Linked DNA regions of Homo sapiens: region 1 is linked to region 2. A link means that fine-mapping ties the variant in region 2 to the expression of a gene that starts in the linked region. Tissue or cell type: esophagus mucosa. Region 2 holds a variant in brackets; the other region holds the start of a gene. All regions are shown on one strand. Distances are between the middles of the regions.

Region 1 (2,610 bases), 52 kb after region 2:
ACAATCTGATTTTTTAGAATTTCAGACGAGGCACGCCTGTAATCTCAGCACTTTGGGAAGCCAGGGCAGGCCGCTCGCTTGAGCGTAGGAGTTCGAGACCAGCCTGGGCAACATGACGGAACCTCGTCTCTACCAAAAAATACAAAAATTAGCTAGGCGTGGTGGCGCCCGCCTGTAGTCCCAGCACTGGGGGACTGTGGCAGGAGGGTCGCTTGAGCCCGGGAGGTCGAGACTGCAGTGAGCCGAGATCGCGCCACTGCACTCCAGCCTGGGTGGGTGACAGCAAGACCCTGTCTAAAAAAGAAAAGAAAACAAAAGAATCTCAAAGTTGCCAGGGACCTAGGGACTTGGCTTCCGACTCTGATGCGCTTTGTAAACTACTAAAAGCTGGAGAAATAAGGGGCTGAGCCCAGCCCCACCTCCTGAATGAGCGGCCTTGGGCGAATCACTGCGTCTGGGCGCCTGGAGCTTCCCCGTCTGAAACAAAGTAGAGGATCCTACGGGAGGCGGAGTGCGAGAGCAAGGAACAAGGAAAGCCCTCGCCTTACACGCCGCGGCTTCCTGCAGAGCTGAGCCACATCCAGTACGATGGGGACAACTTGGGCTCCCGATCCTGACAGACTTGGGTTCGAACCCTCAGGGACCTCGCGCGAGGCGCTTTAGTCAGTTTCTCCATCTGCAAAATGGGCCCGAGAGCAAGAATGAGGCAGCCCGCAGGCGGACGCTGCGGAGGGGCGCTCGGGGGCTGCAGCCGGGGGCGGGTCCGGGGGCGGGTCCAGCCGGCCGAGCCCCCGCGCGAGGGGGAGGGGCGCCGTCCGCTGCGTCGCGTCGCGCACCGCGCACAGCCCGTCGCTGTCTCCTCCAGCCGTCACTCGCGGAGCCCGCGCCGCCTTTGCGCGCGCGACCCTTACATAAGCGTCCCTCGCAGCGGTGCCGGCGCACGTCCACCCGCTCCGACCCGCCGCGGGAAGAGGACCGTGCGGAGCGCGGCGGACACTCACCTCCTCGCCGTCGCCAGTCCTCGCCGCCGCCTCTACCGCTGCTGCCTCCACTGACAGAGAACAGCTGCGGTCTCCGTGCAACCGAACTTGCTGCAGTCCCGGCCCCGCCTTACGGACTTCCTATTGGCCCAGACAGCCCAACCCCTCCCGTTATTGGGCAGTGTTCTCCGTCACTCCTCGCCCCTAGGCTCTGGACTCCTCCCTGTGCCCGCCTGTCCGTCACGTTTAAGCCTTGGCGCCCCACGTCAGCCCCGCCCCTCCCGTCCCCGGCGAGCGCCTGGATAAGTGGCGAGGCTGGGAGAGCCCGCCCCTGGCGCACCACCGCCTACTCCCTTGTCTCCGGAGCCTCACGTGGGCCGCCGGACCCTAGCCGACGCCCGCAATAGGCGGAAGTGGCCGGGCTGTGGCTCGCAGTTATTGGCTGTCGGCGGGGGTGGGGACGTTCGATTCATTCACCCGAGTAGCACGTGTCTCCCGAAGCTGCAAGCACAACAGTTCGCACTGGGGCTCAGGCATCCCGGCTAGACGCAGATACGCGCTGGCTAGCGGAGAAGAGGTCGCAGGAAAAGCTAACGTTAGCGAAGGGCAGGAGGAAGGAGAAGGCGCTTGTGCCACACGGGTTACATGACTATGTCCTTTAACAGCTGCGTAGATGATGATGGGGGTCTACAGTACGTCTGTGTGACCTTGGGCAAGCAACTTAACCTCTGAGTCTCGGTTTTGTCATCTGCAGAGCGAAGCTACTCAGGACCTAGGGGGTTTGGAAGCCTTGTTTGAGACACAAGACACTTGACAAGACCCAAGACACTTGTCAAAGAGGAAAGCTTTGACAAGTGGAACAAGTGACTGAGGCATAAGTCTCTGTCATCGAGGCTTATTAATCCAGTTTGAGGGCGTGCTCGGGAAAAACACGAACCACAGACACATCCGTGGTTGTTTTTCCGAAGAGGTTTTCGGGAGGTTTAGTATTTATGCATTTCCTTAAAGGGGGAATGAGGGGAAGGCATGTAGGAAGAAGGGCAAGTAGGCGATTAGGACAATAGTTACATTCCTATGGGACTTTAGCTAATGCCCGGTAAATCTACGTAAGATGAGATGAATGTCTGAAGAGAAAAAGAGAGTAAAGGAAGAGTCAGTTATGCAGATGTCTCTGAGTAGGTAGTTTTGACTTTGTTCTGCACCTGGGAAAATAAGCTTGTAATGACATTCTTATTGTGGAATTTTTAGGAGCTAGACTTAGATTGTAGACCTGAAGCTACAATTGACCTGTCCTTGTTTATGGGAGGCCAGCAAGAATTTACTTGTGAATGATCTGTGGGGGCAGCCCTTCCCAAATGCCTGAGGTTTTTACCTTTCCGTGTGGATATGGCTGATGCCTAATGCTAGTAACAGCTATTCTTTTGGAAGAGGGTGTTGCAGTGACTCAGCTTCAAGGCTTAATCTTCACTTTCGCATGAATTGGGGCGCTGGGGGGGGGTCCCGAGATTTTTACTTTCATTCACCGCTGCGTAAACTGGGGTCTGTGCCAACCAGGGGATAAGGGAGTGACCAAACAAACCAAAATCCTGCCTTCAAAGGAGAGCAGACAGATTAATATATATATATATAT
Region 2 (2,753 bases):
AAACCACAATACATATGCAAAGGACTGTGATTAGATTTCACCTCATCAGAGGTATCAAGTGTTTACTGAGCAACAAACTGCCTGTAACACACACTTGAGGGATGGAGGATCATATAAAACATGGCCTCTGCCTTTAAGAAAATCACTATCTGCTGACGAGGCAAGACTGGCACAGCCAACATATAACAAACACATAGTGTGTGCAAAGGCACTGCTGTTAGAGAAAAGGGAGAGGAGGCAGGCCGAGCAGCTTAGGAGAGCTAAGTGAAGGCTCACAGAGGAGACGCTTGGCCTGGCCCTTAGCAAGGGTGCCAACGCCTGCTGTGTGAGTGCACTGGGGTGAGAGGGAGAAACAGGACCGGCTGTCCTCGTCTCCAAGGGCGGACTCCAAGCTGACTCTGTTCAGGGTCAGGGGCCAGTGGAGCCAGTTCAAATCCTGATCACAACCCCCTAATGCTAATTAATCTGGTTACCTAGAGGAACTAAGTTGTCTGAGACTCTGTAAAATAAGAATAATTATTTGACTTTGTATGTTCATTGGGAGGATGAAATATGAGAATGCATGTGAACTGGTCCATATTAGGGATGTAATACATGCTACAAATTAATAATCCTTGACATCAAATAAGGTCTGACTGCCAGGGTGGGATCAGATTTTGGAAGGTCAGAAGCACCAATAGAGAAATATAGACACAATGATTTGGGGGTGATCAGCATAGAAGTGACAGCCAAAGCCATGAGAAAGAGCTTGGCCTCAGCAAGGTGGGGAGGGCTGCTGCCCACAAGCCCAGCTCCGGCCACCAGCATGCTCCCTCCCCACCCGAACCACGGGTGCCTGGGCTGCCCAGGCCCTGGCGAGCTTAGCCCAGGGCATCACCACTCACCTGCTTTCCTGAGAAGAGCACAGGAGCAGAGGTGGAACAGCAGAAATGTGAGGAGGAGAAACTGAGGCAGGAATGAAACTGAAGGGATGGTCTTAAGAGGGGCAAACAAATACTGCTAGTATGTCACAGCACAGGAGCCCAAAAGAGAAGTTTCAGGCAGAGGTGGGCGGGCGGGGAGCCTGCAGTAACATGAACTCTCAAAGTTGTGGGGAAGGGCAGCACCAAAGCAGACAATGACCCAGTGAGAAGCTGACACGGAAGCAACGGAAGATGAATCAGGAGGTTTAAGGGAACGATATGCAGCCCCGCCTAAAAAGTATGCATTCATTCATTCAGTCACTTCTGAAC[G/A]AGCCTTTACAACATGCCAGGCACTGTCGGTCATCAGAGAGAAAGTTGTGCAGGAGAGAACAGGTCCCTGTCCTCATGAAACTGACATTTCATTCCAGCCAGGAAACCAAGCACACAAACAAGACCAAAGATCCATCCTGATCGGTAAGTACTGTCTCCTGGCCTCAGACTCCCTCCTGATGGCAGGTCTCCCTCGGTGTCACAGAGAAAGGCACCACCTGACAGAGAACAAAGCCACGGTGCTCAATCCCTCCACCCCTGGCCTAGAACTCCCGGGGTGGGGAGAAAGGCATGTTCTTAACAATTGCTAATCCCGAGCAGTTTGGGACTAAGCAGAGGGAAATAGAGCTGAAGCATACACAGATGTCCACGTCACCTCCATCCCCCCAGTCTTTCCCCCTACGAGCATGCCCATGTACACACACATGCACACTGCATTTCTCCCCTCTCCTTGGATTGTTATCCCATGACCTGGCAGGGAGCCTGGCCCGTTTGCAGTTAAAGAACAAGAGGCCATTTGGAACCTGATCAGTTTCTCCTCCTCCTAAACTGAGGAAAAGGTTTTCTTCAAAATGGGAGATGTTCTCTCCCCTTAGATCTGAGCAGTGAGTCCTACTCAAACGCCAGAGGTCTGGTCTCCCAAAATACGGGTAGTAACATGTTTTTCCTGCACTGCTGTCTGGGAGGTCTCACATGTTGAACAGAGCATGACCTCAGCCCTCCTATTTCCCAGATTCCTAAAGGAAAGCCGGGCCTTTCTGTTCTGTAACTCCAGGGCATTTTGTGAAGGACTGAGCCGGCTGGGGAGCTGGAGCACAGCACACGAAGGGCCGGCTGGTGCTGAACTATGAGCAGGGCCTCCCCATGACCACTGGCAGCCATGCCATTTACACAAGGAACCATGTGGCCTTTCCCTCAACTGTCACCATCATGCAAGGGTGTTCTGGCCCAGAGCTCTTGGATCCATGGCCAAGGTCTTCTGTCCAAGGTCTCAGGCAAAACCTGTTCTCGGCCAGGAACAGTGGTTCACGCCTGTAATCCCAGCACTTTGGGAGGCCGAGGCGGGCAGATCACCTGAGGTCAGGAGTTCAAGACCATCCTGGCCAGCATGGTGAAACCCCGTCTCTACGAAAAATACAAAATTAGCCGGGTGTGGTGGCACACACGTGTAATCCCAGCTACTCGGGAGGCTGAGGCAGAAGAATCGCTTGAACCCGGGAGGCAGGGGTTGCAGTGAGCCGAGATCATACCACCGCACTCCAGCCTGGATGACAAAGCGAGACTCAAAAACAAAAACAAAACAACAACAAATCTGTTCTCAGGTCAAGTAGGGTTTGCCTACCTCCTGCCCCTCAGCTTGCCCATGCCTGACCAGAACAGTCCCCACAGCTCTTGAGAAATGATCTAGTCCAACCCTCCCCTAGATTCCTGTTCTCTAAGGACTGTTCCCATCCTTCTACCCTCTGCTCTTCTAACTGCTAGAAAGCTGCCAAGTTCCAGAGGGAAGAGCAACAATGGCCA

Direction of the effects. Positions count from the first base shown, and alleles are read on the strand shown. Sizes are in standard deviations (SD) of each study's normalised expression.
For the expression in esophagus mucosa of the gene that starts at base 1,063 in region 1, A is the high allele of the variant in region 2 and G is the other (large effect, 0.88 SD a copy in GTEx).

What was found. PIP is the estimated chance that this variant, and not a neighbour inherited with it, causes the effect.
Region 1: it holds the start of PC, and the variant in region 2 is fine-mapped to the expression of PC in esophagus mucosa (GTEx, PIP 0.93).

What each region holds. Positions count from the first base shown.
Region 1 is chr11:66,957,321-66,959,930 of GRCh38, forward strand. It overlaps PC (pyruvate carboxylase), which reads right to left and starts at 1,063. Exons shown (of 23, transcript NM_001040716.2): 1 at 1,002-1,063. RefSeq lists silencers at 721-820, 1,141-1,500 and an enhancer at 1,021-1,070.
Region 2 is chr11:66,905,004-66,907,756 of GRCh38, forward strand. The region is part of intron 3 of PC (pyruvate carboxylase); the gene reads right to left. Among named protein-coding and RNA genes, the nearest start is that of MIR3163, 28 kb to the right of the region's middle. RefSeq lists an enhancer at 131-778. The variant G/A (reference allele first, on the strand shown) is at 1,233.